4 linked regions of the Homo sapiens genome follow. The protein of the gene in region 1 interacts with the protein of each later gene in a pairwise test. Each region holds a gene or a part of one and is shown in the gene's direction. Other genes may lie near its edges.

What was found.
Region 2: the proteins of ARHGAP25 (region 1) and VDAC2 interact in binary tests that used the Homo sapiens proteins (3 or more experiments, as listed by UniProt).
Region 3: the proteins of ARHGAP25 (region 1) and MAGEB6 interact in binary tests that used the Homo sapiens proteins (3 or more experiments, as listed by UniProt).
Region 4: the proteins of ARHGAP25 (region 1) and CCT6A interact in binary tests that used the Homo sapiens proteins (3 or more experiments, as listed by UniProt).

What each region holds. Positions count from the first base shown.
Region 1 is NC_000002.12:68,824,572-68,827,333, forward strand, and holds the end of ARHGAP25 (rho GTPase-activating protein 25), read left to right. Parts: intron 1-1,415; coding exon 1,416-1,623; 3' UTR 1,624-2,262; downstream 2,263-2,762. UniProt on the Homo sapiens protein: GTPase activator for the Rho-type GTPases by converting them to an inactive GDP-bound state.
Region 2 is NC_000010.11:75,209,473-75,213,595, forward strand, and holds the start of VDAC2 (non-selective voltage-gated ion channel VDAC2), read left to right. Parts: upstream 1-1,323; 5' UTR 1,324-1,466; intron 1,467-1,661; 5' UTR 1,662-1,686; coding exon 1,687-1,717; intron 1,718-2,009; exon of another isoform or gene 2,010-2,111; coding exon of another isoform or gene 2,112-2,187; intron 2,188-2,757; coding exon 2,758-2,826; intron 2,827-4,123. UniProt on the Homo sapiens protein: Non-selective voltage-gated ion channel that mediates the transport of anions and cations through the mitochondrion outer membrane and plasma membrane.
Region 3 is NC_000023.11:26,190,959-26,195,239, forward strand, and holds the start of MAGEB6 (melanoma-associated antigen B6), read left to right. Parts: upstream 1-1,481; 5' UTR 1,482-1,569; intron 1,570-2,827; 5' UTR 2,828-2,888; coding exon 2,889-4,112; 3' UTR 4,113-4,281.
Region 4 is NC_000007.14:56,061,765-56,064,489, forward strand, and holds the end of CCT6A (T-complex protein 1 subunit zeta), read left to right. Parts: coding exon 1-85; intron 86-918; coding exon 919-991; intron 992-1,248; coding exon 1,249-1,321; 3' UTR 1,322-2,225; downstream 2,226-2,725. Other genes in the region: SUMF2 (inactive C-alpha-formylglycine-generating enzyme 2 isoform i precursor), read left to right, coding at 2,548-2,614. UniProt on the Homo sapiens protein: Component of the chaperonin-containing T-complex (TRiC), a molecular chaperone complex that assists the folding of actin, tubulin and other proteins upon ATP hydrolysis.

The sequences.
Region 1 (2,762 bases):
CTCTCCTAAAAATATAAAACATTAGCCAGGCATGATGGTGGGTGCCTGTAGTCCCAGCTACTCAGGAGGCTGAGGCAGGAGAATGGTGTGAACCTGGGAGGCGGAGCTTGCAGTGAGCCGAGATCATGCCACTGCACTCCAGCCTGGGCAACAGAGCGAGACTCCGTCTCAAAAAAAACAAAAGGAAAAAAAAAAGATGGAATGAGATCAATTTAGCTTTAAGAAGAGATAGGTGGGGGTAAGCAAAGTTCTGAAGATGGATTGTTACCCACAGAATAGGCCAAGGCCCTTGAAGATAGAACCCAAGTTTTGGGCTCACATGGGAGCTCAAGTCTCCCTTGTGCAAATGGGCAGGCCATTTGGGGAGAAGGGAGGCACACTCTACAGAATGAAATTCTGAAACAAATTTCCAGTCACACAATCGGCATGTGTACACTCATTCCTAAGGGTTAATTCAGCACAGCCTGGCAGGGGGCCACCTGGCACTACATTAGGATTTGGGCCAGTAACGATTAAAATCCTAGCAATTCAGGAATCCCACAGATTTTTCACCTGGCATGGGATTCAGAAGTGAGGGTGAGACTGCCAGGACCACAGCTCCCCAAAGGGCAGTTCCCTCTGTTTCTCCAAATCTTGGTCCCCAGGAGATCCTTAATAAGAAAGGGTGCTGATCTATGCTCTCCATTGACACAGGATGAGGAGGCACTCATGAGCACAGAGGTGTGAGAAATTTGAAATATGGATGGGGCTTCCAGGACTGATACAAGGTGCTGTGGGAGTGAATATATAGATCTGTTAGAACTGGTCCCTCCTTTCAAAGACTTTGTTATCCGGTTGAAGATACAAAACATTAAACGACATGAGAAAAAACACAATAGATGTCACAAGATGGTGTTAAATGACAAATGAGGGGGCTGGGTGTGGTGGTTCATGCCTGTAATCTCAGCACTTTGGGAGGCCAAGGCAGGCGGATCACGAGGTCAGGAGATCAAGACCATCCTGGCTAACATGGTGAAACCCTGTCTCTACTAAAAATACAAAAAAAAAGAAAAAATTAGCTGGGTATGGTGGCGGGCATCTGCAGTCCCAGCTACTAGGGAGGCTGAGGAAGGAGAATGGTGTGAACCTGGGAGGCGGAGCTTGCAGTGAGCCGAGATCGCGTCACTGCACTCCATCCAGCCTGGGCAACAGAGCGAGACTCCATCCAAAAAAAAATGACAAATGAGGGGCTCAGAAGTACTGTGGGGATTCAGGTTTTCTGGGACATCTTCATGTGGGAAGAGGGACATAGCTGAGAGGTTGGATAAGGGTCTTGTGATTTGAAAGGAAAATGAGCAGCAGGTTGTGAGCAAGGGGGAAGGAAGAGTCTAGAATGAATGCCACATTCTTTCATTCTTTTCTTTCCTTCCTTGTAGCCTTGAGAAGGAAAATTATGACGTTTGGGCTAAAGTGGTGAGGCTCAATGAAGAACTGGAGAAGGAAAAGAAGAAGTCTGCAGCCCTAGAGATCAGCCTCCGCAACATGGAGCGCTCCCGGGAGGATGTTGAGAAGAGGAACAAGGCCTTGGAAGAAGAAGTCAAGGAATTTGTCAAATCCATGAAGGAACCCAAGACCGAGGCTTAAGGGTCCCAGGAGTACTGCAGGGACAGCCCCAGAGAGGCCCAACTCTGGCCCCTTTCTCAGTGCTATCTGATGACGGGGAAACAAAATTATTCTCTGAGAGGGAAAGGACATTTGAGGGAAACATCAAATTTCCCCATAAATAAATGAATGGAGTTTGCAGGAAGGTGAGGGTGAGCAGAGATGTGTGTGGACATCTCTGACCATCCATCGCTGTATTCAAATGGATTGTTTTATTCCATTCTGGTCTCAGGCATGACCACGTCCAGTGAAGACATTTGAGGCAGCACATCTCAGGACCCAGGCAATAGACTGGCCCCAACTCAGGCTGGACTAAGGTGTGATTAATTCTTTGTTTTTTGTGTGGAACAGCTCACCTTGTCAGACAGCCTCAGGGCATCTCTGAGACACAGGGGCAGAAAATGACATTCATCTTTTGAGTCCTCATCCATGGAGTGCTGTGTTTGGGGGGCTGCATCTGCTGAAGCGAGAACCCCATTCTGCCACCCCACCAGGATGCCCATTCTCCAGGACTTCTCCAACTTACTATTAGACTAAACCAGAACAAGCAACAAACTGTATTTATGCAAGCAAAATTGATGAGAAAATTATATTCAAATAAAGCAAAAATTAAAAAAAAAAGGCTATTGCTAATCCATACGGCACCTTTGTGAGAATTAGCAAAAGACACTCCTTCCTTGGGGCAGGTGGCTTGCTGAGCAGGGCATGGGCTGAATTTCAGTCCTGACTTGCCTTTCAGGGACAGGTGTTTCTATACTTGCGGAGCCCCCATTTCTTCTGTATTTCACACAATTGCTGTGGGAATTACATGAGAAGAGGTAATCTAGTCCCTACTTGCTTTTTAATTGTGTATGGAGGGCCTGGGAACAAACGCTTCCTACTATGATAGGATTTGTTGTGGTTTTAGACAGTAATTTTCATGATAATAGTTTCTTTTTTCCTGTTTCACCAAAATGCAAGTGATTTTACCCTTAAAGGGACAACAGGCACTAGATGATAGGTGGGAGAGGGGCTTTCCCAGTGGACAGCTGATTCTTCCCCTTCTATGTCAAGCCAGCTTGGCAGAGGCCCTGGTCAGGCCCCGGACCTCTAGGTAGGTTGGTTGAGTCTTTTTTTGTTGT
Region 2 (4,123 bases), on another chromosome or scaffold:
AGCTTACTACAGCCTCAACCTCCCAGGCTCAAGCGATCCTCCCTCCTCAGCCTCCCAATTAGCTGGGACTACAGGCGCCAGCCACCACGCCCGGCTATTTTTTTTTTTTTTTTTTTTTTTTTTGGTAGAGGCAGGGTATTACTATGCCTAGGCTGGTCCGGAACTCCTGAGCTCAGGCGATCCGCCCACCTCGGCATCCAAAAGTGCTGGTATTACAGGTGTGAGCCACCGCGCCCAGCCTGTTTGGGGATCTGGCTAGCATCTGTTTCTCTCCTGATTTCTTGGAAGGTCAGATAAAGATCCTAGCTTTGGCGTGGTAGTGTGAAACTTCAGCATGAGTAACCCCATTTTGGTTTGGTCTGATGGGCCTAATGCAGGAGGTCAGTCTAAACTAACGGTCTCCCATATACATTTTATCTAATAGCTCTGTCACCCTTCCTGCACACCCGGGGAACTCGGGTGCGGCATTCTAACGCCTGCTCAGCATGATTCCACATTTTCTCCAGGCCCATAATCCAGAGGAGGTTGGGCCCGGAGCAGGCTTGCCTCGCCAAGCTCCGGCTCCGTGCGTGTGTGAAGCAGTGCCATGCCTGAGTGGGGAGGAGCCGCGGAAGAGAAAGCGTAAGGCGGCGTGGAAATGGGTGGGGCACGCTAGGACCCGCTCACATTTGTTCAGGGAGAGGCAGTCCCAAAAAGCCTCTCAGGCACACAACCCAGCACAGCAAGGCAGTCACACCAAGGTGGGAAAAGAGGGCAGAAGAGCGCGAGGGGCTGGAGGTGGCGCCCCTGTGTCCCACTCGTTCTCCCTGGGCTGGGAAAGAGAAGCGGTCCCTCAGAAGCGCAGGCTGCGCTAGCTTAGGATGGACGTGGGTAACGCTCAGCTGACTCCCCGCAGGCACCCTATGCAGGGCTTTGTTTCGGGGGGGAACCCGCACCAGCGCGTAAGGGGAGTAGGAGAGATCTACGTGACCCTGGTGCGCAGCCGCGCCCTATCGCCCCGGCCACGCGCCGACGCCCCGCCCCGTCCGTGACGCGTTCGCGCGGGGCCTCCGCCCCATCCCCCTCCCAGGCGGTCCCCAGCGCGCTGCCTCCGCCGTTCCCCGCCCCCTCGCCTCTGAGGCTGCCCGGATAGCTGCCTGATCCAAGGCCCAGCAGCTTCTGCCTTCCGGATCCCCACCGACGGACGGAGGCAGCCCACCTGCAGGACCGGGGCGCTGTCGGTCCACGTGGCCGCTCTGGAGCAGGTTGGAGTTGGCAGCGGGCTGCGCTGCAGGGACAGGCGCGGCGGACAGCCCCGGGGGCAGCGGCGGGGTCCTGTCTGGGAGAGGACAGGGTTGCGGCGGGCGGAACGGTGTCTCCTTCACTTCGCCCTCCAGCTGCTGGAGCTGCAGCCCGACCGCGAGCGTGCCAAGCGGCTTCAGCAGCTAGCGGAGCGGTGGCGGCGGCCCCCCTCAGGACACCACCAGGTACCGCCGCGCCCGCCTCACGCCGACCCAGGGGCCTAGGCCGCGGCGGCCAAGCCGGAGGCCCGCGCCGGACTCGGAGTCGGCCCTGGCTTCCTAAGATGGCCGCGCTGCCCCGCGGCCCCTCGCCCCTCTCTGCCCGGGATCTCCCTTTGGCCCTTTGACCCCAGCTTACCGCACTTCTTGTCCCTCCCGCAGATTCCCCTCTTCCCGCGGCCTCGCCATGGCGACCCACGGACAGACTTGCGCGCGTCGTAAGTAAAGCTGGGATCTCTGCGGGATGGGGCGGCGGAGAGTCGAAGCCTGTCGACCAGAAACCCAGTTTGTTTCCCCCTATCTTTCCAAGAACTTGGAAATTCGGCTGCTTTTGGTGGTCGCCCCACCGTCTGACCACCTCCTCTGCGGAGGAGGGGCTGGGCTGCTGGATTTCAAATGGGGAACAAGGCCCGGGGAGTTGGTCTGTGGCCGCATGGACTTTTCAGCCTTTGTACATGTCTTTGACGTATAGAAGTAAAAAGTTGTTAATTGGGGATTCTGCCTTTGGAGGATCGGATCAATCACTTTTCTAGAGGAAGTAGCAGTCCCTCTTGTGAGAGCGCAAGGTCATTACTTGTGCTCCTAAGGGCGTGGACGTGCTTTGTGGAATGAATGAGCTGGTGTAATGAGCTCAGATTGCCTGCCCTTAAGCAGCACAGCATTGGCCGAGGACTTGAGAGTCACATTAGTAAGTTTGAAGCGCTATTTGATATTTAGTTGATGTAGACATTTGAGTGAAACACACATGGCAGTATTTTTTCCAAGTTTCAATATTTAAATTCCCAGTATTAAATTCTCTTCCCACTCCAGGGTGTTGGTTTTCCCCTCAGCGAAGATATTAAAGGACGTATCAGGGTAAAGGGCCTAGTCTTAGGTTTCGGTTTTATCTAATTTAGTTAAATCAGCTCATCTCAGTGAATTTTGGCAGATACATAAATATCCATACACACAAATACTTGTTTGATTCTTTGTACTTGTCCAGTCCTAGGAAGTGAGGCTGTAGGTAATAGACTGTTTTTCCGTTTTGAAACGAATTCCCCAAGTTTGTATAATCATGGTTATCTGTTTTAGAAATAATTCGTTGGTGGTATCTCCTTTATGGGTCGTTATAGTTCTATTGTAGCTCCTGACCGCATAAAAAACATTCCAACAAATGGGATTGCTTGAATTTTAATATCAGCAGTGGGTCATGCTCTTGTTCTTGGATAGAAGGTGGGAGAATAGAGACATTAACACTGGAATGTTTTTTTTCTACCAGCAATGTGTATTCCTCCATCATATGCTGACCTTGGCAAAGCTGCCAGAGATATTTTCAACAAAGGATTTGGTAAGAACCTTATTTTTAAAACGTTTTAGATAAAGAGTGAAAATGTATGTTTGGGTTGCTTAGCGAAATCAGATCAATCATTGCAAATTGTAAATATCTTGCTGCTTTAAATTTAGAGTTACTTATTTTTTTGAGACAGGGTCTCCCTCTGTTGCCCAGGCTGGATGCAGTGGCATGATTATACCTCACTGCAGCCTGGACCTCCTGGGCTCAAGCGATCATCTTTCCTCAGCCTCCCACGTCCCAAGTAGCTGGGACTACAGGCACGCTCTGCCACACCTGGCTAATTTTTTTTATTTTTCGTAGAGGTGGGGTCTCACTGTGTTACCCAGTAAACACAGTGGCCTCTCAAAGCCTGGTTGGATTACGTTACAGACATGAGCCACTGTGCCCAGCCTTGTATTAATTCTTCTATTAGAAACTTAAGATACTTAGATTAAACTTATGTGAAAATAGTTCTTTTACAGTCTACATCCCCCTCCCCCAATTTCCCAAAATTTTTAAAAACTGTACTTAGAAGATTTGAGCCTTTAAGAAAAACGGCTCGTGCTTTAATTTTTTTTCAGTTATAGCTTAGGCCCTGGTTGACTAGAGTTACGATATATTACTGTTTTGCTTTTGTGGTGACTCCTAATACTTTATCTAGAGTTATGAGCTTTTTCAGGTGAATTTGAGTTTTCTTGAAAATTTTGTTCCATACCCTCCTCCCCTTTATTTAGACTGTTGGAAATACCCCATTGGCATAAATGTCCTAAATGTCTGTATTATGATAAGTTGGTTTTGTTTTTGTTTTTTTTTGAGACGGAATCTCGCTCTGTTGCCCAGGCTGGAGTACAGGGGCGTGATCTCGGCTCCCTGCAGCCTCTGCCTCCTGGGTTCCAGCAATTCTCCTGCCTCAGCCTCTCTGGTAACTGGGATTACAGGCACATGCCACCATGCCCAGCTTTTTTTTTGTATTTTTAGTAGAGACGAGGTTTCACCATGTTGGCCAGGCTGGTTTTGAACTCCTGATCTCAAGTGGTCTGCCTGCCTCGACTACCCGAAGTGCTAGGATTTCAGGCGTGGGCCACCGCACCTGGCCATATCATGATAAGTTATTAGCTATTCTGAAATTTCAGTTGAATGATTTTTTAATCTGATATTTAAGTTTAAGAATAGTTTGGGGGCTGGGCGTGGTGGCTCACACCTGTAATCCCAGCACTTTGGGAGGCCGAGGCGGGCAGATCACGAGGTCAGGAGATCGAGACCATCCTAGCTAACACGGTGAAACCCCATCTCTACTAAAAATACAAAAAAT
Region 3 (4,281 bases), on another chromosome or scaffold:
TAAAAATTTACTGAAAGACTTAGGAAAAATAAATCTCCAATAAAGCAGTGTACTATGTTTATTTACTGTGGAGGAGATATTGTAAAGTTATTGATTCTCCTTAAATTTTTTACAGATTCATTGCCTTAGCCATAGCTGTGAAGATGACAACCAAACCCGGGTGGTTCTTTCCCATGACCAAACTCAACCATAGAAAAGTTAAAGGAAGAATTTTTTTTTAAAAAAAAAGCAGTATTAACAACAGCAAAACAACAAAAATGCGAACCTTGAGAGATGGTCAGTTTGTATTGAACAAGAATGGGTGTGTGGGCAGGTAGGGGCATGAGCTGAAGTAGAGACAGGTCTGTGGCCTACAACAGACGCAGATAACGGAATTGGCTAGAGGAAAAGCTTTAAAACTTTGGTCTTTGCTTCTTTCACTGTGCCATTGGACAATGCATTTTTTTTTCTGCTTCACTAAAGGAAATTCAGTCAGAAACTTGGACCCTATGTGCCAGTTCCATGGGGTAATATTGCCACAGCAAAAACATCTGGGTAGGCTGAAGAAGTATGAATCCAGACACTGTGCTAATAACTACCTGAAACTTCTTTAGTGGAAGTGGACTGGCCTTTAAATTCGTATTATTTTAATATAATATAAAGAATGGACTAAATTAGGATAGCAAATATTGCAGTGAGTCACACAAGATAATGGTAGAAATTCATTCATGAAGGTGTTGAATACAGACACTGATGTCAGCCAAGAGAGAAGTCCCAGACATAGCTATCAGGCTAAGAAGTCTTCTCACTTTCTCCTTATGAATTTTACAGGATCTAGTCAGAGGAAGGGGATGAATTTACATCAGAAAATGGAGAAAACTGAGACCCTGCCAGCAGTCAATGTGAGGACCCTGAGTGAGGACTGAGGGGCTCCACATATCAGAAGAGACAAGAGTGCCCCCCAAATCTCCCTTCATTCCCCGATCTTGCATCACAACTTAATAGCAGCAGCCAGGTTTAGGAGGCCCCAGGCAGTAGTGGCCAGGTGAGGTGTAACTGAATTGCACATGAGGAGTCTCAGGAAGTTGAAGTCTAGTCTGAGAGGGTGTCCTCAAGTCAGTAGAGGGGACATGGCAAGAATGAAGCGACGACACTGAGTGAGGGCTGAGGGCAAAGTCCATTCCAAAAAGGGGGTCTCACAGAGCTCCACCCCTACTGTCAGTCTTGGAAGGTCCCGGCATGGCTCCCGAGCTCAGGCTGCACCTTACTTCCAACTCTGGACTCTCAGGGAATGAGAGCCTCTATCTCCGGTTGACTGATTCAGCTCAACAGATAGAGAAGTCCAAGGGTCCGCGAAGAGCCCCTGAAAGAACTTTACGTGAGTTCCCTGGAATCTGCTGCACCCACAGAACACAAGGGGGAGTAACAGAGCCCTGCAGCTACTGTTACGCAGGGAGCGCCAGGTGGGCGTGGCCGGAAGTGGTTCCTCTTGACTTCCACCTAATAAAGGGGTCTGAGCCGGTCGCCTGAGCCTGAAAAGTGCTGTCACGTCAGCGGAAGGAGGCGTCCCAGATCTTCTCAGCTGTCTTGGTGGGTATCCTGACCTAGAACGGGGGGCATTCCCCGACAACTTCAACCCCCTTCCCCCGAAGAAAGGCGGCTCCACAGAGCCCTGCCCCAACCTGCCCCGACCTGGTCCCTGAGGAGTCCCCAAACATGGCTGTTAGGCCCAAAGTCCATTCATTTTTTTCCGTCGTGTTGAAGAACATGAAGGCCTCGGTCCAAGGCTTGTGGACCCAGGTCAGTAGAGGGAGAAATCTCAGGCCCTACATAGTTAAGAGGACCCTCCTTAGAATTGAGGGAGGGGATTCCATGTCCCGTAACGGGTTGCACCGAACTCTGCCCTTGACGTTAGCCTGGGGGTCCGGGCAGGTCTCTAGAGACTGAGGTGCATTCTCACTTTGTCCCTGTGAGAGTCAGAGAGGTAGGCCCCTGGTTGTAAGGAGATGGCAGCAGGTCAGTGAGGGTGATTTCCAGGTTGTGGGAAGAGTCAGGGTGAGGAGTCTAATTACTGTGAGGAGCATTCTCACTATAACTGGAAGAGCACTCAAATGCCTCCGCTGTTGTCAGCCCTAGGTGGTCTGGGTGTCCCCGGAATGAAGTGTTGGGCAGAAGTGCTTCCTTATTTCCTCCGGGTTAAAATTCCTACTGTCAATTTCAGAGTGGCACAAGGAAATGGGCCTCTGGGTCTTGTCAACAATTTTTTTTTTATTATACTTTAAGTTTTAGGGTACATGTGCACAATGTGCAGGTTTGTTACATATGTATACATGTGCCATGCTGGTGTGCTGCACCCATTAACTCGTCATTTAGCACTAGGTATATCTCCTAATGCTATCCCTCCCCCCTCCCCCCACCCCACAACAGTCCTCGGAGTGTGATGTTCCCCTTCCTGTGTCCATGTGTTCTCACTGTTAACTTCCCACCTATGAGTGAGAACATGCGGTGTTTGGTTTTTTGTCCTTGCGATAGTTTGCTGAGAATGATGGTTTCCAGTTTTAATGATGATCCTGAATGTAAACAGAGAGGATCCAACCCCTGAACAGAGGGGCCCCCACTGCCAGCCCCTGCTGTCACCTCAGTAAGCCCCAAAATGGGCTGTCATGCTATAGTCTAATACTCTAACTTCCTCCTGAGTTTGAAGGAGACAAACTGACCAGGAGAAAAGGAGTCCTGTGGGTTCCTAGAGCAGCTGTTCTGCGGAAACCTGCAGAAGGGGCCCTAGTTAAAGCCAAGATGGTCGCTCTCTGCTGAAGATATTGACGTGACGTCACTCTCTCCCATCCAGGTGCCAGCCTTCCTAGTCTTCCTACCCACACTCCTACCTGCTGTCACAGGCCACAGCCATCATGCCTCGGGGTCACAAGAGTAAGCTCCGTACCTGTGAGAAACGCCAAGAGACCAATGGTCAGCCACAGGGTCTCACGGGTCCCCAGGCCACTGCAGAGAAGCAGGAAGAGTCCCACTCTTCCTCATCCTCTTCTCGCGCTTGTCTGGGTGATTGTCGTAGGTCTTCTGATGCCTCCATTCCTCAGGAGTCTCAGGGAGTGTCACCCACTGGGTCTCCTGATGCAGTTGTTTCATATTCAAAATCCGATGTGGCTGCCAACGGCCAAGATGAGAAAAGTCCAAGCACCTCCCGTGATGCCTCCGTTCCTCAGGAGTCTCAGGGAGCTTCACCCACTGGCTCTCCTGATGCAGGTGTTTCAGGCTCAAAATATGATGTGGCTGCCAACGGCCAAGATGAGAAAAGTCCAAGCACTTCCCATGATGTCTCCGTTCCTCAGGAGTCTCAGGGAGCTTCACCCACTGGCTCGCCTGATGCAGGTGTTTCAGGCTCAAAATATGATGTGGCTGCCGAGGGTGAAGATGAGGAAAGTGTAAGCGCCTCACAGAAAGCCATCATTTTTAAGCGCTTAAGCAAAGATGCTGTAAAGAAGAAGGCGTGCACGTTGGCGCAATTCCTGCAGAAGAAGTTTGAGAAGAAAGAGTCCATTTTGAAGGCAGACATGCTGAAGTGTGTCCGCAGAGAGTACAAGCCCTACTTCCCTCAGATCCTCAACAGAACCTCCCAACATTTGGTGGTGGCCTTTGGCGTTGAATTGAAAGAAATGGATTCCAGCGGCGAGTCCTACACCCTTGTCAGCAAGCTAGGCCTCCCCAGTGAAGGAATTCTGAGTGGTGATAATGCGCTGCCGAAGTCGGGTCTCCTGATGTCGCTCCTGGTTGTGATCTTCATGAACGGCAACTGTGCCACTGAAGAGGAGGTCTGGGAGTTCCTGGGTCTGTTGGGGATATATGATGGGATCCTGCATTCAATCTATGGGGATGCTCGGAAGATCATTACTGAAGATTTGGTGCAAGATAAGTACGTGGTTTACCGGCAGGTGTGCAACAGTGATCCTCCATGCTATGAGTTCCTGTGGGGTCCACGAGCCTATGCTGAAACCACCAAGATGAGAGTCCTGCGTGTTTTGGCCGACAGCAGTAACACCAGTCCCGGTTTATACCCACATCTGTATGAAGACGCTTTGATAGATGAGGTAGAGAGAGCATTGAGACTGAGAGCTTAAGGCAGGGCTGGCACTATTTCCTTGGCCAGGGTACCTTATGGGGCCATATCCTACAGATCCTCCCATTTCTAGGGAGGTCTGAAGTAGAATTTTCACTTTATGTTAGAAGAGAGTAGTGAGCTTTCTAAGTAGTGCAGTATAGTAGAGGCTGGAGGGAACAAGATATGTA
Region 4 (2,725 bases), on another chromosome or scaffold:
GGTTTTGACCTTCAGGAAACATTAGTTAAAATTCAAGCAGAACATTCAGAATCAGGTCAGCTTGTGGGTGTGGACCTGAACACAGGTAAGAGAATGCAACTGTTGTAGAGGGAAAACTAGATGTAATACGTGTGAGTTGAAGCCAGGAAAGATTAAAAATGTTTTGCTTTGCAATTTGACACCAGTGCTGTTAGGGAACTCTGGGTTCTAAAATGGGATAAAATAGGATATTAATAAAAAATGGAATGACTAGGTATAATTAAGGGACGAGTAGACATGAGTAATTTGGGGATACAATTTTGGAGATGTTGAGTGGTGGTAGATGGTTCAGATTAATGTTGAAGGATTTTCATATTGCATTTGCCTTACTCAGTTTTTAATCAAGTACTATGATAAGAAAATAGATGTGGTGATTATATTCATGGGTGAAAACCAGCTAAAGATAGCAATTAATGCCAGAAAAGGGGATGTAGAAATCTAGTGAAATGGTGACAGCCCTGATCTTAGGTTCCTGTAACAAAACAACACAAATTAAGTACAAAGTAGGAGATAACAGGTACCTCCATGCAGTATGTGCAAGACCTATTGTCAACATTAATAGAAAAGGTTTCTGGAATGAGGGAAATGATCAGTCCATTTTAGTCAGATTATAGTTGAAGTGCTATACTTCAGTATGAGTAAACAGAAATGTATCCAGAAGAAGAGAGGGGTGTTCAGGACTTCTAAGTATAAGTCAGACATTCATCAAATATTGTGGACGGGGGTCATGGTTTAGAGTAGAAAATTGGGCTAACAGAGAAGCTTTGAATTCTCATAGTTAATACTGGAGGAAATGAGTCATCAGTGATAAGCAAAGCTGCACACAATATTGTTGGTTCTTACTGACTGAACTTATTTTAAGATTTGGTTGCCTTTTAGGTGAGCCAATGGTGGCAGCAGAAGTAGGCGTATGGGATAACTATTGTGTAAAGAAACAGCTTCTTCACTCCTGGTAAGTTTGGGAAAATGAAAACTAAACTGTTAGAGAATCATACTTTTTTCATTTGGTGTTCTCTGTTTAGTTGCTCCTTTCCCCCATGAATAATGTGATCAGCTGGAAGTATGGAAACTGAACTAGCCCTCTGATGTGTAGAGGGGAAGGGGGAAATTTAATTGGATGTAATGTGTGCAGCTTGGTTGGAAGTGGGAAGTTGAGTCGAATTAGGGCTCCTAATCATCTGAGCCATCTTATTTTTGTCCCCCTTTCAGCACTGTGATTGCCACCAACATTCTCTTGGTTGATGAGATCATGCGAGCTGGAATGTCTTCTCTGAAAGGTTGAATTGAAGCTTCCTCTGTATCTGAATCTTGAAGACTGCAAAGTGATCCTGAGGATTACAGCTGTGGAATTTTTGTCCAAGCTTCAAATAATTTTGAAAGAAATTTTCCCATATGAAAAAAGGAGAGAACACTGGCATCTGTTGAAATTTGGAAGTTCTGAAATTATAGTATTTTTAAAAATTGCACTGAAGTGTATACACATAAAGCAGGTCTTTTATCCAGTGAACAGGATGTTTTGCTTTAGCAGCAGTGACATAAAATTCCATGTTAGATAAGCATATGTTACTTACCTTGTTATTAAATATTTCTTGAAAAGCAAATTTTAATGGTTTAATTTTATGTGGACGTATGTTAAATTATCCAACTACCCTATTGTTAAGCATTTGGTTTTAAAATTTTTATGCTAATATAAATGCTCAAGTAATTTAAAATATTGAAAGCATCCCTGTTGGTATAAATTTCTGAGTAAATGCATTGGATCAGTTGGACTTTGAACGCCTTTGAAATGGCTTTGCTAAAATGCTCCCGCCACAAAGTTGTAGGAAATGGGAAGAGGAGTCAACTAGAGGCAAGGGAGTTGAGAGAGCTGCAACTGTAAAGGGCAAGAACAGGCAGAGGTAAAAAGATGATGGAAGGTGTGGTGACTAAGGGCCACGGTTATTGGGTGAAATTTGAGATTGTAGGCCAACTGTATTTTCAAGCTTCTGAACTTAGGCAAAATATTCATCGCAAAGTCTCTAGCGTCATATTTTTCTCACCCAAATTACGTTTCCACGAGATTATTTATATATAGTTGGTCTATCTCTGCAGTCCTTGAAGGTGAAGTTGTGTGTTACTAGGCTGTGTTTTGGGATGTCAGCAGTGGCCTGAAGTGAGTTGTGCAATAAATGTTAAGTTGAAACCTCCTTTCTGTTCTTGCAATGGTATGACGCACAAAAGCAATCTTAAGGGGAATGAAAACTGTCCAAAGGTTCAGAAAAGTAGTGAAGGGGCCTCTGGAACGGCCGGGACCCTCAACGTGGTTTTCCTTAATTCCCTGGGCGGTCCTGAAGGTGGTGTGGCCAGTCCTCCGCCTCGCTCCGTCAGTTTCCCCCTGCTGAACTATTGGGTGCGGGGCGGGTGGTGGCGCAGCCTGCGCATGTGCATAGGGGTCGACTGCCGCTGCGGTGCATGAGGGCGCATGCGCAGCGGGGCCGTGGGTGTACGCGGCGCAGCGCGGCAGTCCTGATGGCCCGGCATGGGTTACCGCTGCTGCCCCTGCTGTCGCTCCTGGTCGGCGCGTGGCTCAAGCTAGGTCAGTGAACCGGCCGTCCATCCTGGGGGCGCTGGGAAGGGGATGGGGCGCTCCGCCCTGACGGGAGAGAGCCTTAGGCCCTTCTGCCGGCTTCCGGGATGCGGCTGCAGC